Linked DNA regions of Homo sapiens: region 2 is linked to region 1. Evidence: fine-mapped expression QTL. A gene starts in region 1. The other region holds a variant in brackets. All regions are shown on one strand. Distances are between the middles of the regions. Region 1 holds the start of FANCA (FA complementation group A). Region 2 overlaps FANCA (FA complementation group A).

Region 1 (2,935 bases):
ACCCAGCTAATTTTTGTATTTTCAGTAGAGACCGGGTTTCACTATGTTGGCCAGGCTGGTCTCGAACTCCTGACCCTGAGTGATCCACCCGCCTTGGCCTCCCCAAAAGCTGGGATTACAGCCCTGAGCCACGGCGCCCGGCCTGTTTTTTTGTTGTTGTTGTTTTGTTTTTAATAAAAGAGGCGGGGTCTCACCCCGTTGCCCAGGTTGGTCCAGAACTCCCGGGCTCAGGCGACCCTCCCCTCTGCGGGCCAGGCCACCGCGCCCGCCGCCTCGGGTGTTTTCTTAGGAAAGCTGTGCGGTGGCTGGACTCAAAAACCCCGAACCTAAATCTGCCCGCAGACGGACACCAGCTTCCTCTTACCTCAAGCAAAAGGGCATTCAGGTCCTGATGGCTTCGCAGGAGGCGCACAGCTGATTCCTTTAATTTCTGTGCCCTTTCAGGATTATATTTTTCCCTCTTGACCCTTCCCGCTACGGAGAGAAGTCGGTTCGAAACCATCACAGCACAATTCACACACGGGGTCCCCGGCCCGACGCGCAGGTGGACGCCGCGGAGAAACCCACCAGCGACACCCTCCCGAAGAGGGGCCGGGGCTCCTCCCCAGGGCGCAGGTCTCGGGAAACTAACGGAGACGGCCCCACCGCGGACGCCGGGGAAGACGGCCCAGGAGGGCCCGAGGCAGGGGAGCCCGGGGACGGCTGGCGAGGGGCGGCCTCTGCGCTGAGGGGAGCCCCAGGCCGCGCACCCCAGGCCCGCCTGACAGGGCGGCCGGCGGGGGCGGCGTTCGGGAAAGAAGGGAGCGCCCCGCGGGCGGCGGCTGGGGGCGTCCGCCCAGGCGCAGGAGGGGCCGGGTCCGAGGCAGCCGCGCCGCCCCAGCCGGGCGCCCACCCCGCACAGCCCCCCGGGCGCGGCGTCCGGGGATCCGACCGGCGGAGGCTCTGGCGGGAAGGGATCGGGGAACCGGCGAAACCGTCCCGGGCCGGACGCCGCCCACTCCCGCGGCCTGCCGCGCCCACCTACCCAGCAGCTCGGCCCAGGCCCTCCGGCGGCCCCCTGGGTCCTGGCCCGAGGCGGAGTTCGGGACCCACGAGTCGGACATGGCCTTGGCGCCTACAGCCCCGGCGGCGGCTCCCTGCGCCCGAGCCCGCGCTGCCTTCCTATTGGCTGCGGCCAGGCGCGCACACCCGTTGGCTGGCGGCGGCCAGGCCACGCCCCTCAGGTCGAGGCCTTGCGTCGTGGCCATGTTGGTCCTGGGGGAGGCGCCTGCGCGCGGTGAGGTAGTTTTTGCGTTTGGCTTTGCCGCCGCGGTGTAGTCCGCGGGGGCGTCTCGCGCGGGCAGACTGCCGCCCCTCAAGCGTGGTTCCTGCCGGGAATGACTGGGGTTGGTCCTGAAGAGACCACCTGGCCAACCAAGCCGAGGCAGGCTCAGAGCGCCGCGGGGAGCGCAAAGCCGCGCGCGCCTCTGAGCTCCGGGCAGCCGCTGTTCCTCCCGGCGGCCGAACGGTCCGCGCGCAGGGCGGTGTTTCGGCAGCCGGAGACCGCGCGGTAGCCGCGCCTGTATTCCCAGCGCTTTGGGAGGCCGAGGCTGGAGGGTCGCTTGAGCCCAGGAATTCCAGACTAGCCTGGGCAACAGAGCGAGACCCCATCACTTTTGTTTCTTTTCTTTTTTTTTTTTTTCCTTTTTTTGAGACGGAGTCTCCCTCTGTCGCCCAGGCTGGAGTGCAGTGGCGCGATCTCGGCTCACTGCAACGTCTGCCTCCTGGGTTCAGGTGATTCTCCTGCCTCAGCCTCCCGAGTAGCTGGGATTGCAGGTGCGCGCCACCACGCCTGGATGATTTTTGTTATTTTTAGTAGAGACAGCGTTTCGCCATGTTGGCCCAGGCTAGTCTCGAACTCCGGACCTCAGGTGATCCGCCCGCCTCGGCCTCCCAAAGTGCTGGGATTACAGGCGTGAGCCACCGCACCCGGCTGAGACCCTATCTTTTAACCAGCCTGGGCGGCAGAGCGAGACTCTGTCTCAAAACAAAACCAAACATAAGAATTCGTAAAAGCGAGTGCCTAGGCGAAGCTAATGTGCCTCAAAGTCCTGGGTAAGTAGAGGCCCTGGAGACCCGTCCGCATCCTCTGGCAGTGGCCTTGGAACCACCGAAGGGATTCAGCCGAAGGGCCGCGTTCCCGGCAGGCGTCTTTATTGTGTTGATTACGTAGATGGCGTAGATGACGTAGATGACGTTCAGCACCACAAACGAAGAGCCGAGGCACAGAGTGGGGCCTTGGATTCATGAGATGGGGATGGAGCAGAAATGAGAATTCGGAGTCCATGAAACCCCCACAAAGACTCCTGCACGGCCCGACTCGGACACTTTGCAATCTGCTGGTTGAGGGGGATGGTGTGAACTCAGGGAACAGCCTGAGATCGCGCCGCTGCACTCCAGCCTGGGCAACAGAGCAAGACCCTGTTTCAAAAACAAAAAATAACACTAAGCAATTAACAGGACTAGACTCAGAGGTGATCGAGAAATTGAAACAGGCTGGAAATTTAAATTAACTGTGATTAATATGTGGAGGTCTCTTGTACGAAAGGTGAACAATATGCATGAGGAGGAAACTCATCAAATTATAAGAAAGGAAGAACGCTGATAACAGGTAATTTTTCTGATGGGGCAGCAGTAGGATCAACACAGCTGAGAAAAATAGGAATTACCCACGTTGGAAAATAAAGAAGAAAAAAAGTTTTTTTTTAAAAAAAGCATCCAAGAACTGTGGGAAAATATCAAATGATATCATATGCATGTAATAGGACTCCCAAAAGAAGAAGAAAGAACAAATCATAAAAAATGTTTGAAGAGAAAATTACCAATAATTTTCCCAAAATAATGAAAGACCTGAGCTCAGAGCACACACAAAACTTGATAAATATGAGCCCCTGCC
Region 2 (2,500 bases), 55 kb before region 1:
TATTACTTCCATTGGTTTCATCCAGAATCTGATACCAGGATCCAGGTGCAGGCGACAGTGCTGCATGTGCCTGGAAGGCCCCTGATGGCCGGAAGGACGAGGAGCACAGGGTGGCTGTTGCCAACCCTCTCCTGAGTCTAGGTGTGGCAGGCACCCTGAGGCCCATATACCCACCAGGATACTCCATATCTGCAGTGACCACATTCCCCTCTCCCTGACCTCCACCCTAAACTCCACACCCTTAAACCCAACGGTCCTCTGGGCTCCCTACTCCTATGCCCAGAACAGCACATCTGGCCTCTCAAATAGTCTCAAATGGTCTCAGTCATCAGCCCTGGGACTCATGGGGGTTCACTGCTTCATTTACCCACTTCTTGGTGCCCCCAAGTCAAGGCTGGCATCACTCCTCAAAGTCTGCACCACCTGCTCCACACCAGCCTCTGCTCCTGCCTGGTCATTTCCTCTCACACGGCCCTGTCTGTTATCTCCAGGGCTCATTCCTACCTTTAATCCACTTCTGTATCTACCTGTGTGTTGCCAGGGCCTGGACACAGGTGTACAGCTCCCGGACAGCAGCCATAGCCCAGCCAGGGTAGGGTGAAGTCTAAGTGGGTGCCTTATACGTGCCACATCTGCCCTCATTGATACAAAGGTGCCATATGGGCAGGCTTGTTTATTCCCCTCTATACTCCCTGCTTCTAGAACACTCTAGAATTGTCTGCCACATGGTAGGAGCTCAGTAAATGTTTCTTAAATAAAGGAATAACAACCGAAATTGGGCAACCTGGCCAGGCGCGGTGGCTCACGCCTGTAATGCCAGCACTTTGGGAGGCCAAGGCAAGTGGATCACGAGGTCAGGAGATTGAGACCACCCTGGTTAACACGGTGAAACCCCGTCTCTACCAAAAATACAAAAAATTAGCTGGGTATGGTGGCGGGCGCCTGTAGTCCCAGCTACTCGGGAGGCTGAGCCAGGAGAATGGCGTGAACCCGGGAGGTGGAGGTTGCAGTGAGCCGAGATCGCGCCACTGCATTCCAGCCTGGGTGACAGAGCAAGACTCTGTCTCAGAAAAAAAAAAAAAAAAAGAAAAACAGAAATTGCCACCGCGTGGAAGCTT[T/A]ACTTTCGCTTTTGCTTTAATAAATCTTGCCACCGAAAAAAAAAAAATTGAAATTGTGCTCAAAGATTAACAGGTAAACCAAACATTAAATTGAGGATAAAATGACGAAACATAGGCTTTAAGGCAATGTGGAAAACCGTGTAACATTTTAAAGGGAAGCTCCTTTTTCTTTTGAGATAGGGTCTCACTCCGTTGCACAGGCTAAAGTGCAGTGGTGTGATCTCAGCTCGCTGCAGCCTCTACCTCCCAGGCTCAAGCAATGCTCCTGCTCAGCTTCCCAAGTGGCTGTGATGACTGGAACGTGCCGCATGTCCGGCTAATTTCTTTTCTATTTTTTGTAGAAATGGAGTTTCCCCATGTTGCCCAGGCTGACCTCAAACTCCTGGATTCAAGAGATCTCCTGCCTCAGCCTCCCAAAGTGCTGGGATTATAGGTGTGAGCCATCATGCCTGGCCAGGGTAGCTCTTTTCAACACTTACCGTTCAGTATCTGAAAGAGCATCAGCTTCAGGTTGAATTTCCAGCTCCAGGTGTAACCAGTCTTGGTAAGTTAACTGAGAAAGAGAGCAAGCAATTCAATACAATGAGGACAGAACACACAATCCACCGACAGGTTTATAAACCAGTTTGTCATTTCATCTCATACGCAGTCCTCCATGTCCCTGTGTTATAATGAAATTGCAGCTGAGAGTTCCACAGGAAAGAAACCTTAGTTTTATCAAGAATGATTTCTTACAGGATTTCCCTAGCACAAAGATGTTAGTACTGTAATCCTTCTTTCTAAGTATAAAACGGCTATTTTAGTCTGGGCAACATAGTAAGACCTCATCTCATTTAAAAATTACCTGGGCACGGTGGCTCATGCCTGTAATCCCAGCACTTTGGGAGGCTGAGGCCAGCAGATTGCTTGAGCCTAGGAGTTTGACACCAGCCTAGGCAACATGGTGACACCCCGTCTCTACAAAAGATTTAAAAATCAGCCAGGTGTGGTGGCACATGTGTGTGGTCCCAGCCTCTTGGGAGGCTGAGGCAGGAGGATCTCTTGAGCCCAGGAGGTCAAGGCTGCAGTGAGTAACAGAGTGAGAACTATCTATAAAAAGGAAAAAAAAAAAAAAGAAAAAAGAAACTAACAAAACAACAACATTCTACAGCTATTCACAGTAGCATACCTTCATTTATTTTTGGAAACAGGTTCTGTTGCCCAGGCTGGAGTGTGTGCAGTGGTGCAATCGTAGCTCGCTGCAGACTCTGCCTCCTGAACTCCAGAATTCTCCCCCTCAGCCTCTCAGATGGCTGGGACTGCAGGTGCACATCACCATGACCAGCTAAGTTTTTTAAAAACATTTTTAGGAGGCCGAGCACGGTGGCTCATGCCTGTAATCC

Evidence for each region. PIP is the estimated chance that this variant, and not a neighbour inherited with it, causes the effect.
Region 2: its variant is fine-mapped to the expression of FANCA in whole blood (TOPMed, PIP above 0.99).

What each region holds. Positions count from the first base shown.
Region 1 is chr16:89,815,513-89,818,447 of GRCh38, forward strand. It overlaps FANCA (FA complementation group A), which reads right to left and starts at 1,135. Exons shown (of 43, transcript NM_000135.4): 1 at 1,025-1,135; 2 at 365-474. The coding sequence starts at 1,103. RefSeq lists silencers at 639-688, 919-1,208 and enhancers at 1,069-1,363, 1,749-1,798.
Region 2 is chr16:89,760,352-89,762,851 of GRCh38, forward strand. FANCA (FA complementation group A) reads right to left here. Exons shown (of 43, transcript NM_000135.4): 29 at 1,598-1,671. Among named protein-coding and RNA genes, the nearest start is that of ZNF276, 40 kb to the left of the region's middle. The variant T/A (reference allele first, on the strand shown) is at 1,119.